4 separate regions of the Homo sapiens genome follow, and all the other regions are linked to region 1. The links come from fine-mapping of genetic effects on gene expression. A gene starts in region 1. Each other region holds a variant in brackets. All regions are shown on one strand. Distances are from middle to middle.

Region 1 (5,310 bases):
AAAAATTAGCTGGTGTGGTGGCATGTGCCTGTGGTCCCAGCTACTTGCGGGGCTGAGGCAGGAGGATGGCTTGAGACCAGGAGGCGGAGGCTGCAGTGAGCCGAGATTGTGCCACTGCACTCCAGCCTGGGTGACACAGTGAGACCCTGTCTCAAAAAAACAAAAGCCCCCAACACGCCACTGTTTGCTGACACACCATGTCACCCTCTTCCCCAGGGGCTTCAGGTGGCATCTTGCCATACCAAATGCTGTCCTAACTTTTTTCTTTCTTTTTTTTTGAGAAGGAGTCTTGCTCTGTCACCTAGGCTGGAATCCAAGGGCACCATGTCAACTCACTGTAACCTCCACTTCCCAGATTCAAGTGATTCTCCTGCCTCAGCCTCCCAAGTAGCTGGGACTACAGGCGCCCACAACCACGCCCAGTTAATTTTTGTATTTTTATTAGAGACGGGGTTTCACCATGTTGGCCAGGCTGGTCTCGAACTCCTGGCCTTAAGAGATCTGCCCGCCTCGGCCTCCCAAAGTGCTGGGATTACAGGCATGAGCCACCACACCCAACCAGCGTTTTTCTAATGCATTAAGTAAAATGAACTTAACTTCTCCTTGAAAAGTATTTTTCTAAGGATTTCATGACCCTCTCCAAAGTCACATAACTCTGCATTGTGGTAAAACTGGGGTCTGAAATCAATGCCCTAGGGGATAAAATCCAAACCCTAATCTCTGCCTTCCTTAGAGGTCAAGACTAGCTCCTAGAACTTCAGCCCCATGAGGCCCCACATTCTCCACCAGACACGGAAAGGGTGAGACCTAATTAATGGCAATTGATCCATCAATCAATTTTCAGAGATTAAGGCGAGCGTTGATTCACATGCTTCCCAACGCAGACTTCCAGTCTGTACTAAGTTCTGTGCTTTACGAAAGACTTTCAGAAACAGATCTTAACTTCTTCATTCAGAGATAGATTAGATAGATACATAGATACAATTAAAAAGAAAAAAATTACTTTGTTGAGATCCCCTCTGTCCTTATCCTCATGGCCACATCTGACAGTCCCTTCCTAGCATCTCCCAAAGCACTATCCCAGGAAAGGACTAGGTTTGCCCAGTAACTCTGACATGACCACAACTGGGGGGAAAGAATGCAGGTTTGAGGGACAGAGATGCAAGTCAGAAGCTCAAAGTGGAGACGGGAGGGCCACCAATGAAATGACCTGCTGTGTGGCCAGCAATTTAGTCTCTCTGTCAGTTTCCTGCAGCTACAAAAATTGAGGTTAAGATGGCCAACGTAAGAGAGCTGTTACCAGGAATGCCTTATAAAATCATTCCCTTAATAAGTGGGGCTTTTAACAGCCAAATAAATGGGTCCCATCAGCCTTTGACCTTCAGGTTGCTAAGGGCAGTTTCTCAGCCCTCTCGGTTCACTTGTTTTTCTTTTATACATATATCCTTATTTATTTTTACTGTACCTATCGATTCACTGTTAAAACAGGGACAAGACCTAGAAAGATGGCACTTTGTTTCCTGGCTCTGAACAAGTTAAATCAAACAATAGGTTATAATTCAAAATTCCTGGTGCCCAATACTTTCTGAGCATTTTAACCACTCCAAGCCAGAGTTTTCTCTCTGGCAAAGAATAACAGAAAGCTCACATAGTGGCAACGACAACTGAACGTGATAAAGCAGAGCGCCTGCCACAACAGTAGATGCCCAATAAATGCTAGTTCTCCTCCTCCCTCAGTGCCATGTCTTCTTCCTCCAGCTGCCTTGTCTAAAAAGGCTGGCTTCCACACTCCACGGCCAGGCCAGGACAAGCCTACCACTTGTCAGAAACTCCCGCCAGTATCCGTTCCTGCACCCAGACACACACTTACAAATCAGTCATCCCCAAGACCAAAGACACAGGGGTTCCAAAAGGCACCCTCAAGGGAACCAGTCACCAGCCTTCCTCGTTAAGCAGCTCTGTGCTCTCAGGGAGAGAACTTAGCCCCAGCAGCCACTACTAGGATTTTCCCATGGTGCAATGCAACTTCCCCAACTTTTCCGGGCCCAGTTTCCAAAGAAACCCAGGCAGGCGTTGTGCACAATCAGCCACCAGTCTGGGAGAGACTGGGCTCTGAGCAGAGAAAAAGGAGCTGGGACAGCCAGAAAATGAAAAAGCAGTTGTGGCCCCGGCACAGGATGGCAGCGACCAAAACTTAAGAGTAGGGGTCCTGGCCCAAGTCCCATTCTTCTGGACGGTACCCTTGGTTAAAGGCTAGCACAGGGTGCCAAAGCTAGCGGACGGTGAGGAGCCTCAGAAAAGGGACTGATGGACATCCTCCGAGGTACCCCCTACCCGCTACTGGACCTGGTGGCCCCCGGGGACCCTGTCGTCGAGGCACCTGAGAGTGAAGGCCTTCAGCGGGGGGCATTGTTCACAGCGAACGGCGGGACTGGGGGAGGCGGCGGGACTTCGGGATCCGCGCACCGCCGCCTCCCCAACTGGGCCAGAGGAGCGAGTCCACCGAGGCCATCGCCAGGTGGAGCGGCGGCCCCGGCGAGGTACCCTCGGCCAGCAGGAGGGAGAAGCGGAGGGCGCGTCCCAGAGGCGGGGGCCAAGGGTCTGCCACTCACCCGCGCCTTCGGCGGGCTGCGGCGGCCCGACGACGCCGTTCAGGTAGAGAATGGGCAGCAGGTGAGGCTGCGTCTTCTCCAGCGCCGCCCGCAGGTCCTGGAAGTGGTCCCGCTCCTTGGCCAAGAGCAGCTTGAGCAGCAGCTCCGCCTTGGCGCCTCCCGCCTCCTCGTCCAGCTGCCGCCGCTCGCCGGGACTGAGCGCTCCCGCGGCCTCGAGCAGCCCGAGCACGGCTTCCACCTCCGTCATGGCCTGGGCCAGGCTCTGCTGACACTGGGCGAGCAGCTCCCGGCGCTGGGGCTCCATGGTGGCGGGCCGCGCCGCCCCGCCCCGCCGGACGCCTCCCGGGCCCCCCGAGGCCGGCGGGCGGGCAGGCGAGCACCTCGGCAGCAGCCCTAGGGCGCCGGGAGCCGTGAGGCGGCGGGAGCCATGGGCCGGGGCCTGGGCGGGCTGGGGGCCCGGGGCGGCGGGCGGCGCTCAGCAGCGGCCGCCTCCCGGGCTCCGGAGCGCAGCCATGTTGGCTGCCGCGGCGGCGGGACTGGAAGAGGAGGAGGAGGAGACGGAGGAGGAGAAGGAGGAGGCGGAGGTGGGGACGGCGGCCGGGGCGCGCCCCGAGGCCGGGCTCCAGCCGGGCATGCTCCCCCTCCCCCTCAGCCTCCGCGCGCGCCGCCCGCCCCGCGAGAAAACTCGCCCCGAAAGCCGGGCCGCGCGCCGCCCCCAGAGCAAGACTACAACTCCCGGGAGAAAGTCGCCTGGGCCGTGTTTCCCAGGCTCCCGACAGCTCCGGCCCGGCTCGGAGGCCGCCTCGGCCCCCGTGCACCCCGGCCCGGCTCACCGGGGCCCCGCGGCCGCCACCCGCTCCCCCGTGGCCACAGCCCCGCCGCCGCCGGCCCGTCCCTCCTCTCTCCCCTCCCCAGGCCGTCCCTCCGGGAGGCGGCAGCAGGGGAGGAGGGGACGGGCGGAGGGGAGGGGTCCCCGGCCCGCCCGCTAGGCGGGGACGCGGCGCCGGCTGGTTCCCGGTCCCCCGAGGCCCAGGCGCAGCCGGGGGTGGGGGACACGGAGTCAGGCCTGGCACGCGGCCAGCCCACAAGCTGCTGGAGACCCCCTCATACAAATCTTGCCCCCAGTCCAGAGGGTCCTAATCTGAGAACTCCAAAATACAGCCTGGAGACAAATGGTGGGGAGGGTTTCCCCTAAATTTGGACATCTCCAGATTAAGACCTCCGCCGAATCCGTGAGGCTTTCCCTCTCCAAGGAGCTCCTAAGAGAATTTCCCAGTAAAATCGCCTCAACTGCGGTAAATAGGCTGTTCCCCGCGCCAGCATTTGAGAAGAGCTGGTCCCCAGAGTGTAAAGGAGTTAGGATGTTGGCAGGAGGAAGGATGTGTCGCCGGATGAGGAAAAGAAAGGTGGGTGTCTGCGGTGCAGTCCTTGGTCTTTCTGGCAAGTGAGGCGCTCTCCCCCTAAATGTCTCAGAGGGAGACAAATCAGCGGACTACCTTGCTTCCTTTGATGACTTGGAAAGGATCTGCAGTCCCCCTTAAAGCCCAAGAATGTCTTCTCTTCCACGACAGCCGTTTGTGGACACATACTGCTTACCTCCCTGACTGCAGGACAAGGTCCTTCAAAGCTGGAACTCTGACTGCGCTCAGTGATCCCGCAGTGCTCCTCTGTAGAGTGGGAACCCAGGTCCATTTCAAATATCTACGTTGGAATGAGTGGATCTCGCTGGGGGTGAGAGGCACTTTGTCTACCCACACTGCCAGTCCCAGCCACATGCCTCCTCCCTTCCCTCAAAAAGCAGTGTCTTCTTAGTCTGCTTCTTCAAGGGGAGAAGTCGTTTTTATTTATGGAAACGAACTCACTATATGGTAGAAAGAACAAGAGTATCAGAATTTGCACTTTGGACTTGGACTCCCCTCTAAGCAGCTGCACAAGGTGGAACAAACCAATAATCCTTGCTGATCTGTTTTGTCCTTAGGAAAAATGGTGGAGGGAGAATATTAGATCAGGGGTTCTTAGCCTTGGCTTCATGAATAAGCTCAAGGATGTCAATGAAGCTTTTGACATGATCTCAACTTTTTTGTGAACATTTATATATTTTTCTGGAATGGGGTCCATAGAGTTACAAGTTCTTTAAGACCTCCAGATGGACCCCAATATGGCAGAAATGAACTATTTAAAGATACCTGCCTGCTCCCGTAGTCTGACCCTCTATGGCTAAGCAAGGTTTTAGAGGAGTGGAAGGCTGGCCATTGCACAGTATCAGGGTTCCAGACAGGCTCCCTGGCTCTTCCCTCCCAGTCCTGCTCCTGAGATATAGTTCTTTCTGGCCGCCACTTCCCTTAGGGCAACCCCAGAGCTTAAATCATCTGCAAGGCAGTCACCTTTCAGGCACCTTTCATCCGGCACCTGTGTTCTTAGCTGGATTAACTAGAAAGCTAGTTGGAGGAAGGAAGGTGAAAGTGGAGGAAGGGGAAAAGAGGAAAAGTTGGAGACGAATCTGGCTTATGGTTAGAAGCATATTTTTTGGCCAGGCAAAGTGGCTCACGCCTGTAATCCCAGCACTTTGGGAGGCTGAGGTAGGCGGATTGCCTGAGCTCAGGAGTTGGAGACCAGCCTGGCCAACGTGGTAAAACCCCGTCTCTAACAAAAATACAAAAATTTAGCCAGGCATGATGGTGCAAGCCTGTAATCCCAG
Region 2 (5,310 bases), 130 kb before region 1:
TGTCTGAGCTAGAAAACTTGTACCTGTAAAACAAAGGACAGCATTGAGGACTGAAACTTGTCTCTTTTTTGAACAACTGTGCAAGAAAATATATCCCTTTTTAAAAAACATCAGTTATGGCTAAACTACAATCTAGTGTCTAGAATTACAAAGAATAAAATGAAATCAAAGATTTCTCGCTAGTAAAATGAAATGTTAGGAACAGTATTAAAATATAGGTCCTACCCCAACGACACTTACACAGAGCCCAGTACAGTACCTATTATTAACAGGACGCATAGCTTAAGGAGGAACCACATCAAATCTTCAGCCAGACATATCTAGCCTCAGAAGTGCAAAAAAAAAAAAAGCCCCCAAACGAAGACACCCACACTGAGTAGGGTGCATGCCGTGAGTGCTGTAATCAAGATTAAAAAGACCTCAGTTTTTCTTTTTAGACTGTTGATAGTGACAATAACCATTATGCTTCCCCTAAAAGCTCTCAATTCAATGTCTGAAACATGAATGTTTTCATATCAAAAAGAACTGATGTACCTGCCACCCTCTAAAAAGTTTAAGAATTACCCTGCAAACATTGCACTGATGAAGGCTGTCACGACTTACAGAGCCTAAGGAGGACCCAATGGCAGGCATCAGCACAGCTGAACACCACCTGGACCCCACTGCAGCCCTGCCCACGCAGCTCTCACGGAGCAGACACAGTCCTCAAGTAATAAGCACAGATGGAGGAGAAACGAGAGGCTGTGGAAGGCAGGAGAGAAAGGCCGAGAGACGAGTTTGTAAGAATGCCAAAGTCACCTTCCCCATTGTGGGAGGAAAATGCCAAAGGCACTGGTTCTGCTGCCACAGGCAGTCTGAGCACCTGGAGTTGTGACGTCCTTCCAGGAGAGGTGCCACCAAGGAGCAGGAGGTTTGTCAAAGCTCTGGTCCCACCAACAAGAACCTCCCAAAGCAAAGCAGCCCCCATTGAGGTTCCAAGGTCGTTTTGCTGAAGACGGGAACGAAACCAACACCAAAGCGACAGGGGGTTGACAGAGGGGACAGGGGCTGGGCACCGGCAACATGGAGCCGTTCAAGTAAACATAAACCACCAAATACTTAGAAAAGGCTTGTAAACGAGTGATCCGAAAGGTTCTCTTTGCAGCATCTCTGATCAGCTGGCTAAAGAAAGGTGGGTGCTGAACCCGTCTTTAGTGTTATCTGTTTTGTGTTAAAGCACACGTGTGACACGGGCAGAGTGTGTGGGCCTGGGCCTGGATCGCACGCAGCCGTGGCCCTCTGTCTACAAAGGAGGTGCTTCTGGGTCCTGGTTCCGGATCCTTCCCCCGCATGTTCATAGACGGACAGACTTCTACTTTCAGTCGCTAGAAAAGAGCTGAGTCTGGTGTCCCCTCAGGCGGCCAGCTGCAGTCATCCACAGCACAGCATTCTCCTAGAGCGGGCAGGCTGGAATCCACAGGACTTTATTTTGTTCTTGATTGACCATTGCCAAGATCTGAGTGCAAATGCTTGACAGGGCTCCTCCCTGGATGACCCCTGCAAAAGAGCCCCCCAGACACGTCATTCAGCTCAGAGTAAGACCCCAGGTTTGAGGCAAGGCAGTACAGCTTGCACTCTTTCTACTGTGTGGCTGTCTGCTTTGTGCTCCTTGGCACTCTGCTCCATCCCCACCTGACTCTCCTTCACCAGCAAGAAACTGGGAAAGAAAATTGCCCCTCTTGAGTTGATCACTCATATGTAAACTGCCCACCCCACTGCAGTTAACACCCTGGGTTGGGTTTGCAATGGTTGGGGGAATCCCAGGGCATCAGAAGGAAGTTTGGAGGACATGTGGCGGTGGTCTAATCATTAGCAGGATTCTGCAGGAAACGACAAGTTTAAGGAGCCAGATAGCTCATGGCCAAGAGGAGAGTCACAGAAAGATGATGGCGCCAACTTGGGCCAGCCCTGTACTATAGGAGTTTGACAAAGGGGTCTATAGACACCAGGCCAGGGGTACTCCAGTGTGCTCCACATAACAGCACCTGGACACAAACCAAGCCCCTACTGCAACAAGGCATGCTCAGAAATTGACAGTGAGTGTCTAGAAACTGCTATGGAAACAGGACGTCGTAATTTTATGTCTGTTGAATCTAACAAGAAAAAAATAGAGCTTACCTTTTGCAAGACTTAGAGTTTTAAATTTTCATCTCTCTAGGAATTGTCAGTGTATTTGGCTAAATACCAGTCTGTGAGGAATTGGAAATGAAAGTTCACACACACACCCACACACACACACACACAGAGGCATGCACACCTGCACATACCTACACACACATGGGCACCAAGCCCAGGTCCCTGGACTAGATCATAACACTCTCCACAATGCAGTTAGAATCCCTGTCCCATCCTCTGTGACTGCAAATGCTAATGCCCTGCAAATGACAGACTTTCCCAAAGAGGCTGAAGGCCAGAAGGTAAAATAGAACCAAACTTCACTGAGTTTGTTTCACTTTGAAGACCAGAGATGGTAAGGGGACAGCATTGTTTTTTTTTGTTTTGTTTTTT[GT/G]TTTTTTTTTTTTGGAGGGGGGTTTGCCAAATCCCGCTGCAAAACGGGACTGCCCTGGAGGGTGCTAGGGACAGATGGGCCCCTAGCCTCCGCTGCCCACACTGCTGGCACACTGGGGGCTGCTCCAGTCCCCGCCCTGCCTGGGGACACTGTGGCTGCACTAAACTGCACCTGTGCTATGAGACAGACCCACCACTGCACGTGTGAAAATGAGCAGGCAAGCCAGGCAGGACCTGAGGCCAAGATCGGTGAGCTTAACATTCAACCTGTAAGAATCCTGACGTTGGCCAGGGACTGCAATCTGAACACCTGACTTGTCAGGAACGTGCTCATGACAGCACTTGGGAGCATGTAGAAAGTGCGGGCTTCTCCACGGCTAAGAAAACAGCCTTAGGAAGCCTCTGCTTCCTTCCCTGCTGCCTGCTCCCCACTCCAGGCCCACGCACACCTACCTGTGAAGTACCTGCTGTACTCCTGCTCAAGCTTCTGCGCCGCCTCAAACTGCTCTTTGGAATGCCTCTGAGTCACCTTGTCCCTCAGGTAGATGGGGTCTCTCTGCTCCCTGTGGGGACAGCCAGACACCAGGCTGAGCACTGAGCCTCCTCCAGGCCCTCTTTCCTTCCTCTGTCCAGGCTAACAGGGGCCCCATCAAGGCAGGGGTAGGCTGTGGAGGGAGGCCCCATGTGCTCCCCACATAAAGCACAGCAACAGCCTGTAGGCTGTCGGGGGAGCTCTGGGCAGATGGGGGAAGGAGGGCCCCCCAGCACACACACTTGGAACAGATGCACCAGCAGCCCCTAGCGCAGGTCCCAGAAGCTCAGCAGCACAGAAAGGCAAAATGGAGCAGGGCCTTGGTGAGCCCTTGGCCCAACCAGCACAGGAGCCGAAGCTCAGCGAAGGCAACGGCTCCTGAGTCATGAGCCAGCTCGGGGCTGAGTGGGACTGTGCCCAGGCCACTGGCTCCCCTGCTCCTAAGCAGCACGTAGCGAGGAAAGGGGGCTGGGGCAGGAGAGGGGAGCTGTGCAGACCAAGCTGGCCATGCCCAAAAAACAGTGGCAGCACCCAAATGGCGGAGGGGCGCGAGGAAGGGGCTGCGCTTGGCTGACACCACCTCTGAGTAGGGGACAGGGCCGACAGGGAAGGGTCATTTTCTACACGTACTGCCTATTTCAAGACCCATAGGCCCATCTCTCATTCCTCAACCCCCCACCCCAACACACCCTGCTCCCTACTTGGGCTCCCAGCCCCACCTGTGACAAGGCCCCAGCGGAGCCCAGGGGGCCAGTTACCTACTTGATGTGCTTGGCGCTCTTGTAGTGGATGAAGATGACAATGGGGTAGATGTGCATGTGGTGGAGCCGCTCAATAGCGTGCGGAGCAATGTCCAGGAGGCAGTGTCGGTTCTGGGGTGGGGGGTGCAGAGTGAGCCCTGGCGGGCAGTGAGGGGCAGCCAGCCCCCTGTCCTGCCACCAGCAGGACCCACCTCACCTCACAGGGCTCTACCCACAAACAAGGCAGTAAAGCCACACAGTACACCGTGGGGAAACCATACCCACGAAACTCCCAACAAACCCCACTTGCTGTGAGGAAGGCCAAGGCTGGGAGCCAGGGCTTAGGGGGCTAGGGGTGCTGGCCAGCCCAACTCCAAACTTCCTTTCCCGCCTTTGCCCAGATACAGGGACCTTCTGAAAGCCCTGCCCCACCCTGGCCTCTGAAGCCTTATTTTTGCCAGACTGAGCGAATGAAGAGCCAGAGTCTGGTGAGCCTTTGTGTGGCTGAGACTGAAATATGTCTGTCATGTCTGTCGTCCCAGGCATCCAGGTGGAGTGCAGGCCCGTGCACTCCCGACCCCCAGATGCTCCACTGGGGCATTCCCCCAAGTAGAGTTTGCCCACTTTCAGCAGTGAGAAGCCAACACCTTCATCTAACAGAGAAGGGAAGCAAAGCCCAGCGAGCGAGCTGAGCAGCCTGGAGAAATGGAGCCCAAGGAGCGGCTGTGTCCTTGGACTCCGAGTGTTTGCCCCACCAGCACTCCCCACAGACGTCCCCGCCCTCGTGCTGCCTAGGATGTTCGAAGGCACCGAGAGTCATAGCCCTTTTAGGGGCAGGGACCCTGAGGGAAGGCACGTTCCTGTCCCCAGAAGGTGCATGTGAAATTGTTCGGCACATGCATTTGGGGACCCCGTTCCGGAATGCCCTGCGAGAGGCCTTTCCGCAGAGCTCAATACTCTCATCAGAGATGAGACCCCCCGCACCTGCCAGAGAGGAAGATGGGGCGGCACATACACAGGGGAACTCCTCCATCCCCACCAAGGGATGTGCTTGCAGAAACACACAGCAGCCATGAGGGCAAGCCCAGGCACAGGTGAACTCAGACTAACACAACACGGTGGGCTCACTGAAGGTCTGAGCCGCTGGGGCAGAGGATCACGGACCAGGGGCCTAGACCTGTGCACAGGAGGTCTAATACTGGATGCCTAATCCTCAGACTGAAGCCCTGGGTACCTTTTCTGTGATCTCCTTTATTGACGCCACAGTGGTCACATCGAAATGGCCGCTTCTCCGCTTATAGTCGACAAACAGGCAATCTTTGACACCCCGCTCAATGGCCTGCTGGGAGGCCTTCATCACCTCTGCAATGCACAGACACAGGAATCAGGGAGCCCCAGGCCCTGCTGAGCCCCAGCAGAGGGAGCAGGGGAAGAACACTGCTCAGCAGCTGTCAGTAACCCAGTCCTGCCATGCATGAATCTGACCCATGT
Region 3 (5,310 bases), 25 kb after region 1:
TGGAGTGCAGTACAGTGGCATGATCATAGCTTACTGCAGGATTGAACTCCTGGGCTCAAGGATCTTACTATCTCAGCCTCCCCAGTAGCTGGGACTATAGGCATGTGTGACCATGCCTGGCTAATTTTTTAATTTTATGTAGAGACAGGTTCTGGCTATGTTGTCCAGGCTGGTCTCCAACTCCTGGCCTCAAATGACCCACCCGGTTTGGTCTCCCACAGTGCTGAGATTACAGATGTGAGCCACTGTGCCCAGTCTATTTTTAAATATATTCTTAAATTTTTCATTGTAACCATCTTTTTTTTTTTTTTTTTTTTTTTGAGACAGGGCCTCATTTTGTCCCGCAGGCTGGAATGCAGTGGCACAATCTTGGCTCACTACAGCCTCTACCTCCCGATTCAAGCAACCCTCCTGCCTCAGCACCCCAAAGTAGCTGGGACTACAGGTGCATGGCACCACGCCTGCCTAATTTTAAATGTCTTTTTTGTAGAGGCGGGGTTTAGCTGTGTCGCCCAGGCTGGTCTTGAACTCCTGAGCTCAAGCGATCCTCCCGCCTTGGCTTCCCAAAGTGCTGGGATTACAGGCATGAGCCACCGCGCCCAGCCAGATAGTAGCCATCTTAATGGAGTGAGATGGCTTACTTTTAAACATTATTTCTAAACTGAACCCAGACCCTGGCATATTAGAGGTGGTTACACAGTGAACGCATTTGACGAACAGTCAAGGTAATTTTGTTTTCCAGGGTTTGCTCCATGAATAAACAATCTCTGAGAGGCTAGTATCTTGTCCAAGGTCAAGAGCCTGAATTTGAATTGTCTGACTGAAAGGCAGCATGTTCTCTACTAGTCACCTCTCTACCTGGTTCCACCCTATGCAAGGCAAACAAACGCAGAAGAAAGAAACCCATTGCCGTGCAAAATCCAGTGATTCCAAACCCAACCAGCCCACCAGGGATGTTCTGGGAGTCCGAGCTGGGGACAGGAGCACAGCCAGCCCTAGCCAGCCCTCCCCCCACCACACTCAGTGCCTGGCGGGGCAGAGCGAGTCACATTTCAGCCTCACTCACAGGCCAGCTTGAAATTCGGCCCAGCCGCCACTGCCTCCTGAGAACTCCTCCGGATGCCTGCAGGCTTATGCGGGGCTGAGTCACTTCCTCACCTTAATTCTCCCCTAATACCTTCCCTTTCTCTGCTGCTTTACTCCTGGCACCACTGTCTGGGTGTGGAATGTCTGGGGAAGCTGTGCAGGTGGGTTGGCTGAGCTGTCTGCCCAGATACCACAAACATGGCTGGGGAGAGAGGATGCAGGGGTAAAAGTAAAGCCAGATTTGTCTGCTGGCTCTTAAGCGCATCCTAATCCCCTCAGTCAGTTTGATCTTCGCAAACATGAGCACAGGTCAATATCTCTAAGCTTGGGTCCTGAGGGGCTGGTGGAGGATGGAGCAGAGGATGGATGAAGAGGAACAGGAAGTGAGGGGAGAGTGATGGCTGCTTTGGCTTTTAGAAACTTCCATCCCACATTACTTTCCCTAGGGAAGCTCCCACCTCCCATCCCTGGGAGAACAGACTGCATCCTGGAAGGTCAAGTTCCAGGTCATGTTAAATATGATGGTTTCCTGGATGAGTCTAAGGACATATCATTAATATCTTCAGCCTATTTCCAGAAGTCCTGCTGTTCCTCTTACCTACATGTATGCTGTTCTTCCCTGTGTACAACTTAACTTTCCTTTTCAGGTTTCGGATGCTTTGTCTGTACATTGCTTTGTGTGTTTGCCTGCCTCAGCTTGTACTTTCGGAGATAGAAATTGGGTCAAAGTTTTAATTTTTATTTAAGTTATTCATTTATATAGTTTAAAAAGTCAAGGGATGGTGCAAGATTTATGAAAAAGAGCCCTCTCCCTTCCCCTTAGCAGAGATAATCATCTTCACCTTTTTTCTTTTTTTTTTTTTTTTGAGACAGAGTGTCGCTCCATTGCCCAGGCTGGAGTGCAGCGACGTGATCTCGGCTCACTGCGACCTCCACCTCCCGGATTCAAGAGATTCTCCTCCTGCCTCAGCCTCCCGAGTAGCTGGGACTACAGGCGTATGCCACCATACCTGGCTAATTTTTGTATTTTTAGTAGAGATGGGGTTTCTCCATGTTGGCCAGGCTGGTCTTGAACTCCTGACCTCAAGTGATCTGCCCGCCTCGGCCTCCCAAAGTGCTGGGATTACAGGTGTGAGCCAGCATTCCTGGCCATCTTCAATTTTTATAGCTCATTCTTTTGGCATTTGTCTCCATTTCCCTCAATAATATTATTTTATTACTACGTCATGATTTTTCAGTTTTAGGCACTATTTATTGTCTTCCATACTTGAACAACCCATGCACCCTTCCTGGCCTCCATCTTTCCACTACAGTCATACAATAATTTGGTTAGAGCAATAGCCAGTTTTTACATTAATACCACTATGTAAAGACTATTACCATGTGATGGACTATGCACAATTTTTTATTTT[C/T]CCTGGAGCTAATAATTATCTCCGCCCCCACCCCAATTCATTTACTTAGTTTCCTATGTGTTTAATGCCAAGCTCTTTCAGTTGTTATAATCTTCCCTTAATACTTTCAGATGATATTCTACCAATTTTATTTTCTTGAAGAAATCTCTCTTAGACATGGCTGGGCACGGTGGCTCATGCCTGTAATCCCAGCACTTTGGGAGGACAACATGGGTGGATCGCCTGAGGTCAGGAGTTTGAGACCAGCCTGGCCAGCATGGTAAAACCCCATCTCTACTAAAAACACAAAAAATTATCTGGGCGTGGTGGCAGGTGCCTGTAATCCCAGCTACTCGGGAGGCTGAGGCAGGAGAAGTGCTTGAATCGGGGAGGCAGAGTTTGCAGTGAGCCGAGATCGCACCATTACACTCCAGCATGGGTGACAAGAGCAAAACTGCATCTCAAAAAAAAGAAAAGAAGAAATCTCTCCTAGACATTTCTGACCTTATCTGGTCTAGGCTGGTTGTCCTATAGGACTGTTGCATTGTCGTCATCTTGCAATCTCTTTTTACCAACATCCTGGGGGATTCTCTTTATCTATCACATGTCAGATTCCTGTTTCCCCTTGTCTTTTTCTTGGTTTACTACCTTATCATCCAGGAGCCTCCTGAGTATATAAACATTTTTTTCTGAACCTTAAATGACTCAAATGTCTTTTTCTATCTTCAACCTTGATTGATAGTTTGGTTCTGTAGTCCCAGCTACTCGGGAGGCTGAGGCAGGAGAATGGCGTGAACCAGGTGGGCAGAGCTTGCAGTGAGCCGAGATTGCGCCACTGCACTCCAACCTGGGCGACAGAGCAAGACTCCATCTCAAAAAAAAAAAAAAAAAAAAAAAAAAAAGATAGTTTGGTTGGGTATAAAATTTTAAGTTGAATGGCTGGGTTCCATGGCTCACACCTGTAATCCCAGCCCTTTGGGAGTACGAGGTGGGTGGATCACTTAAGGTCAGGAGTTTGAGACTTGGTGAAACCCTGTCTCTACTAAAAATACAAAAAATTAGCCAGGTCTGGTGGCTCATACCTATAATCCCAGCTACATGGGAGACTGAGGCAGGAGAATTGCTTGAAGTCAGAAGATGGAGGTTGCAGTGAGCTGAGATCGCGCCACTACACTCCAGCCTGGGCAACAGAGTGAGACTTTGTCTCAAAAATAAAAAAAAAAAAAGAATTATGTTGGAGATGATTTTCCTTTGGAAGTTTGAAAGCATTGCTTATCTTCTAACTTCCAGTGCATCTATTGAGACATTCAAGGCACTCTAATGCCTGACCTCCTCCCCTTTCCCTTTGGAAACTTGCAGGATCTTCTCTTTGTCTTCAGTGTTCTGAATTATAATGATTTGTCTTGATGTTGGTCTCTTTTCATCCATTGGGCCAAGAAATCTTGGGCCCTTTTAAACTGGAAATATATGTCTCCGTTTTTGAAAATTTTCTTTGGGTATTTTATTTTATTTTATTTTATTGAGACAGAGTCTTGCTCTGTCGCCCAGGCTGGAGTGCAGTGGTGCAATCTCGGCTTACTGCAACCTCCGCCTCCCAGGTTCAAGCGATTCTCCTGCCTCAGCCTCCTGAGTAGCTGGGATTACAGGTGCCTGTCACCACACCCGGATAATTTTTTGTATTTTTAGTACAGATGAAGTTTCACTATGTTGGCCAGGCTGGTCTCAAACTCCTGACCTTGTGATCCACCCGCCTTGGCCTCCCAAACTGCTGGAATTACAGGTGTGAGCCACTGTGCCCAGCCCAGGTGTTTTTTTAATCATTTCCTCCATTCCTTTTTCTCTGTTGTTTTTTGTTTATTTTTGTTTATTTTTTTAATGGAATTCCTATTATTCAGGAAGTGGAATTCCTGTATTAGGCCTCTAATTTTCTTATCTATTCTCTCCTATTTTCTGTGACTATGTTTTTGTAAGATTTCCTCAATTTTATATTCCAATCCTTCTACTGAGTTTTTGATTTCTCACATTATATTTTTAAGTTTAAAGAGCTCCTTTTTTGTCCTTTGAATGTTCCCCTAAACAAAAAAAAACAATAGTGGCCAGGCATGGTGGCTCATACCTGTAATCCCAGCACTTTGGGAGGCTGAGGTAGAGGACTGAGATCAGGAGTTCAAAACCAGCCTGGGCAGCAAAGTGAGACCCCATCTCTACAAAAAAATAAAAAAATTAGCTGAGTGTGATGGCATGTGCCTGTAGCCCCAGCTACATGGGAGGCTGAAGCAGGAGGGTTGCTTGATTCCAGGAGGTCAAGGCTGCAGTGAGCCATATTCGCACCACTGTACTCCAGCCTAGGTGACAGAGTGAGACGCTGTCTCAAAAACAAACAAAAACAACCAAAACCCCAACAGTATTGTGTTTTTGTCTCAGGTTTATATATTTGCATATGGAATGTCTATATAAATTATGTTCTTGCTGGGCATAGTGGTTTGCACCTGTAGTGCCAGTTCCTGGGGACGCTGGGGCAGGAAGATCACTTGAGCCCAGGAGTTCTGGGCTGTAGCATGCTATGCCGATCGGGTGCTAAGTTCGGCATCAATATGATGACCTCCCAGGAGCAGAGGACCACCAGGTTGCCCAAGGAGGGGTGAACTGGCCCAGATCAGAAAAGGAGCAGGTTGGCAGTTTAAATTGCATTGCATTGAAGAAATAGGTGGTGGGATCTTGCTGGGTGTTTGATTAGCCCTTTCTCTGTCTTGCTTGTTTGAGCTTCAGCAGAATTCAAAATGACTGGCAATAAGGCTGGGAAGGACTCTGGAAAAAAACAAGACAAAGGCGG
Region 4 (5,310 bases), 56 kb before region 1:
TGACTGCCCCACTCCATGCACTTCCTGAAGGGTGAGTCCCACATTCCAAATTCCAACAATCCCATCATTCCATTGATATGTCTCCGGGCACCAAAAGCAGGCAGAACAAAGTAATAGGATACCGTTGGGAGCTTTGAATTGCAGTCCCAGAAGGGCCTGCCCTGAGCCCTAAACAGGATGAGGGTTATGGGAGGAACTGTGTTTTTATGGGTGGAGTTGTGGCCCCCCAAAAGATGCTAAAGTCCCAATCCAGTAAATGTGAATGTGAACCTTATTTGGAAAGGTCAAAGCGTTATCTTTCCGAGGCGCATTTGCATTCTAAAAGGGGAGTCCCGAGAGGGACACTGCTCAGCCCACAGCAGTTATTGCTGATGGTGAAATAGTCTTTACAGATGATCAATTTAAGATGAGGTCTTGCTGCCGTAAGGCAGGCTCCTAGGCCAATCTGACCAGTGTCCTTATTAAAAGGGGAAATTTGGAGACAGACACACATGGACGGAGAACATCATGTGAACACAAAGGCAGAGATCAGTGTGATGTCGGCAAACCAAGGAGCACCAAGGATTACCAGCAAGCCACCAGAAGCGAGGAGAGAGGCCCGGGACAGATCTCTCCCTAGCGCCTTCAGCCTGCGTGGCCTCACTGACACTTTGATCTTGGGCTTCTGTCCTCCAGAACTGTGAGACAATCAATTTCTGCTGTGTAAGCCACCTGGTCTGCGGCACTTTGTTATAGCAGCCCTAGAAAACTAAGATGGAACTCGCCGGCTGGTCACTGTCTTCCCTCTTATCACACTACCTTCCCTTACTGCAGCTACTTATTTAACTGTTTCCCACCAAAAGACCCTAACATCCAGGAGTGTGGGGCCCACATCTGCCTAATTCGCCACTACGGCCCAAGCCCACCTCTGGCACACTGGAGGTGTTCAAGATGTGAGCTGACATATGAAAGAGCTGTCCTGACTAGTTCTAGAATCTCAGGCATGTGACTCCCCCTCCCAGAATGTCAATTTCCCCATCTCTCTGCAGAGGGAAAAGAAAATAATTGGAGTAGATGACCTCTGTGAGTCCTTCGGGCTCAAAAGATGGCCGGGACTCACCACTGAAGGTGTCTGCATCCATCATGGTCAGATCAGGCCATGAGAAACCCCACTAGAGGTGCTAAACAGAGGGAATGGGTCACAGAGGTGTGGGAAGCCTGAGAAACCACTGCGGCCTTCCTGCTGGACTTCAGAGAAGGGCTGGCCTCATTTTATGGGCTTTCTGAAACCCATATTCAGAGAAACACACCCAATTCAGCATGGACTGGCAATGCCTATCCCCAAGGAAACTCCAAAAGGGGTGAGTCTCCTGGGCAGTGGTCACTGAGTTACTACAAGGCCTTTGGGGTTGGGGTGGGGATGGTGGGTCAACAGGCTCCCCTAGAAGCCCTGTGCCCTGACAAAGTAAACAATGGCAAAACATGTGCTTCCCAGCACTCACCTCCCCACCTCCTTCTAACATCAGAACTGGGTTTCTGATGATGGGAGAAAATGTAAATGAAATCAACGGAAGGATGATCCTGTGAGTAATCTGACAAGGGAGAACCAGCTTCCTCTCCCATGAACCCCAGCTGCCTTGGCTTTCACCCAGACCCCTGGCCCACCCGGTGTCCTCCCCAGACAGTGGTACTCACCCACACTGCTGAGGGAGCTGCTGCTTTCTGAGTCTGAGGGCATGGTGGACAGGACGCTGTAGGTAGAACCTGGGGAAAGAGGGGAGACCATGTTACTAACCCCAAGGGGTCACTCGTCTTCACCCCAAGCCAGCTGATCATCAGTCAATGCCAGGCCATGAGAGCTACATGCACCAGGCACTAGAAATCCACATCCACGGGCCAAGCAGAGGAGGCGCGCTCAGCAGATCTGGACTTCGGTGTTTCTGCCAGGCCTCCCACCTCACTTTATCGGCCCCTCCTGCTCTGGGCAGGCGGGCAGAGGGGAACTTGGAGTCAGTCAGCTGGCTTCTTGTTGGGACATCTGGGGAAAGGCTTAGCAAGGGAGTGACATGCCCCAGGTAAACATGGGGTGTGGGGGTTTCCTCCACATCTCTAGCAATATGATTCTGGCTTCCATGCAGAGGGTAACAGAGCAGAAATTAAAGAACAACTGAACTATCTGTTCTTTCTCTGACTGTTCTGCTCTTTAGGTTCTAACTGTATTCAAGCTCAGTTCTTAATAATTTACTTAGTATCTGCCCCCTTATTAAAAGTTACTCCTAAAATGATGAGCAATTGTACCATCACCAAAGCCAGAGGGTAGCACTTTTTTTTGTCCACACTTAATGTTAATTCCTGGTTGTGGACACACAACCACTGTGGTTTGGTTTGAATTCAAATATCTTCAAAACCAGATGTTACCCTCCCAGCACCGGGAAGCCCAGTTTCTGAACCTAGCTCTATGTAGGTGCCCATAGCTGGGTCGTGCTGAGCAAGTAGCTTTTGTTTTCTGGAACTCTGTTTCCTGGTCTGCAAAATGAAGGAGTTCAACCAGATGGCTTATAAGGTCCCTACCCCATCCCCCATCCCCCATCCCCCATCCCATTTCAGCAATTTCCATGATTAATGGAAACAGAAGGTACACTTTGCTCATCAAGACTATGGATGACATAAAATTAAAAGGGAGGGCAAACTGACTCAGAGACTAAATTGGGAGTGGACAAAGCATAACACACAGAGATGGCAGGTCAGATAAAACAAGGACAAATCCAGTGTTTTGTTCTTGGAGCCAAAAGAACTATACAATGAAGAGCGGTATGTACCAGGCCAAGTGGGTGAGCTGGAGATGGAATTTTTGCAATAAGGGCTTTGAACAAGCCTTAGGGCTCTGGCATCAGAAAGCTGCCAAGAACTAATGAGATCCTGGGCTCCACAACAAGAAATGTGG[A/G]GGACCACATTTAAGGAGCTCCCAGCAGGGCACGGTGGCTCACACCTATAATCCCAGTGCTTTGGGAGGCCAAGGTGGGCAGATTGCTTCAGCTCAGGAGTTTGAGACCAGCCTGGGCAACATAGTGAAACTCCATCTCTATAAAAAATACAAAAAATTAGCTGGGCGTGGTGGCACGCACCTGTAATCCCAGCTACCTGGGAGTCTGAGGTGGGAGGATCACCTAAGCCCAGGGAAGTCAAGGCTGCAGTGAGCCATGATCATGCCACTGCACTTCAGCCTGGGCAACAAAGTGAGATCCTGTCTCAGAAAAAAAAAACAAAAAACACTCTTCCACTGCAATTCTTGACTAGCCACCCTACACGCATCTTTGGACGGGAAAGAGGAGAAATGAAGAAATGGGGGTAAATGGGGGAGCGGGGCAGGGGAGGGAGATGCACTGTAGGTGGGAGGCCCCTGGGGGACAGGAGAGACCTTGAGGGGAAAGCAGGGAGACTTTGCTGGGGAGGTGAGGACCATGCAGGAGGGCAGAGAGATAGACTGCAGGCAGGCGAGCTAGCAGGCGTGTCCATCAGAAAAAGAGATGAAGGGGGAGAGAAAAAAGAGAAAGCAAGCAAAAAGCAACTTTGGTAATGGCAAGCACTAGGACAGGCGTGACCGGCAATGACCAGTAGCCTCATTATCACATTTTCAGAGACTCTGAAGAATCTGAAGGCGTTGAGCATGGGCTGAAGAGAATGACTGGGGAATGGGTAGGTGTCTTGTCTCTCAATACGACTGTCAGAAGGGATTAGATTTGTTCTTGATGGCCTCCAGCAGCCAAACCAGGAGCAGCGGGTGGATGCTGGAGAAAGCTGCATCTCTAAACAGGTCTGGATGGCCACGGTCAGCACTGCCAGGTATGAAAAGCCTGAGGGTGAGGGGGTGAGACAGTGAGGGAGGCCCAGCACTCAGTGGCATGGATGTCATGGGGAAGTCTGTGCATCTGAAGGGAGATGAAACCAGAAAACCCAGTTCAGCCTTAAAATTCTATGATCCTGCTAATAATGAATAACCCATGCTCCACCTCCCATATCTGAAGTCCAACCCACACTATTAGTTTTGCTGTACATTCAATATCTCTGCATTTTTGTCTCAACAAAAACAATAAGCATCACACTTTTTTTTTTTTTTTTTTTTTTTTGAGACAGAGTCTTGCACTGTCGCCTGGGCTGGAGTGCAATGGCGCGATCTCGGCTCACTGCAACCTCCACCTCCTGGGTTCAAGCGATTCTCCTGCCCCAGCCTCCTGAGTAGCTGGGATTACAGGTGCCCACCACCATGCCTGCCTAATTTTTTCTATTTTTAGTAGAGACAGGGTTTTGCTATGTTGGCCAGGCTGGTCTTGAACTCCTGACCTCGGGATCCACCAGGCCTCAGCCTCCCAAAGTGCTAGGATTACAGGCATGAGCCACCATGTCTGGCCTGCATCACATGTTTTTTTAACCCATCTCTCTTTCTATATCATACACATTACATGTTGCTTCAATATCTGTGAAATAAAGTCAAATGCAATTCGGGCAATCCATTGATATCTTCAAAGAACAAGAACCCAACACAATGCCTATTTTCTAAACTCAACTACCATTTTTTAAATAGTATTTTTTCTTTATGGGGGCAAGGAAGGCTAGCCACTGACATGTTGGTGGATTGTTTTTGGAAGACGTCTACTCAGGAAAGCAGGCACAAATAAATTTCCCCACTCTCACCTCCAGAAATCTCTATGCTCAACCCATCCCAGCTTACGACACTGGCAGCCTGCGCTCCAGATGCCTCTGCTGGAACGCTCCCCTCTTTCTTACTCTTGGCATCAGCAGTGCCCCTTCTTCCAGTAAACTGCCCCTCCTCTTCAAATCGTCTCTCTCCTCCCCTGTGGCAAGTTTCCACTGTTAATTAAGCTTGGCAGATGCCCTTCCCTCTCTCCGCCCACCTACCTCCCTGGCTGGGGGAGTCCACAGGCCAAGCGACACGTTCTGTTCCTCTTCCCTGTCCCTGCAGTCCTGACTGGCCTCTGGGGCCTAACCAGGGCAGCGTGACATCTTTGTGTGCATCTCTGGGCATCACTCCCACCCCCAACCCAGGGAGCTGGCAGGGCTCCTAGGAGCTGGTGGGGGGAGTGGTTAAAATTGGACAGGACCCAGTTTTTACAATGTTCCCAGAGCCTTGGACGTCATTAAGGGGGAAAAAAGGCCCAAAGACGACATTGTCTCGGTCATGCTTTGTCTCTGCGGTTATTGTTGTCCTAAAGGCCTGTGTGGTCAGGACAGTCAGGAAAAGGCAAAAGAAGCCACTGTCCCCCAAAGTCACACGGTGTCCTTTCAAGGCCGGTTGCTTCCATGGGGCGGAGG

Which allele goes with the higher level. Positions count from the first base shown, and alleles are read on the strand shown. Sizes are in standard deviations (SD) of each study's normalised expression. Not every link is listed here.
For the expression in monocytes of the gene that starts at base 3,151 in region 1, GT is the high allele of the variant in region 2 and G is the other (large effect, 0.84 SD a copy in Schmiedel 2018).

What was found. PIP is the estimated chance that this variant, and not a neighbour inherited with it, causes the effect. A credible set is the group of variants that fine-mapping cannot tell apart.
Region 2: its variant is the best candidate, but not a certain one, in a credible set for the expression of DLG5 in monocytes (Schmiedel 2018, PIP 0.80).
Region 3: its variant is the best candidate, but not a certain one, in a credible set for the expression of DLG5 in whole blood (TOPMed, PIP 0.53).
Region 4: its variant is the best candidate, but not a certain one, in a credible set for the expression of DLG5 in whole blood (TOPMed, PIP 0.79).

Annotation. Positions count from the first base shown.
Region 1 is chr10:77,923,605-77,928,914 of GRCh38, forward strand. It overlaps DLG5 (discs large MAGUK scaffold protein 5), which reads right to left and starts at 3,151. Exons shown (of 32, transcript NM_004747.4): 1 at 2,613-3,151. The coding sequence starts at 2,916. DLG5-AS1 (DLG5 antisense RNA 1) reads left to right here and starts at 3,208. Exons shown (of 1, transcript NR_024585.1): 1 at 3,208-5,310. RefSeq lists a silencer at 4,844-5,020.
Region 2 is chr10:77,791,008-77,796,317 of GRCh38, forward strand. It overlaps DLG5 (discs large MAGUK scaffold protein 5), which reads right to left. Exons shown (of 32, transcript NM_004747.4): 29 at 5,054-5,181; 30 at 3,842-3,951; 31 at 3,001-3,110; 32 at 1-1,536. The coding sequence ends at 1,433. Among named protein-coding and RNA genes, the nearest start is that of DLG5, 130 kb to the right of the region's middle. The variant GT/G (reference allele first, on the strand shown) is at 2,548.
Region 3 is chr10:77,948,238-77,953,547 of GRCh38, forward strand. It overlaps the pseudogene H2AZP5. Among named protein-coding and RNA genes, the nearest start is that of DLG5-AS1, 24 kb to the left of the region's middle. RefSeq lists enhancers at 1-517, 518-1,055, 1,056-1,593 and a silencer at 934-1,228. The variant C/T (reference allele first, on the strand shown) is at 2,499.
Region 4 is chr10:77,867,455-77,872,764 of GRCh38, forward strand. DLG5 (discs large MAGUK scaffold protein 5) reads right to left here. Exons shown (of 32, transcript NM_004747.4): 2 at 1,675-1,743. Among named protein-coding and RNA genes, the nearest start is that of DLG5, 57 kb to the right of the region's middle. RefSeq lists an enhancer at 1-1,000. The variant A/G (reference allele first, on the strand shown) is at 2,924.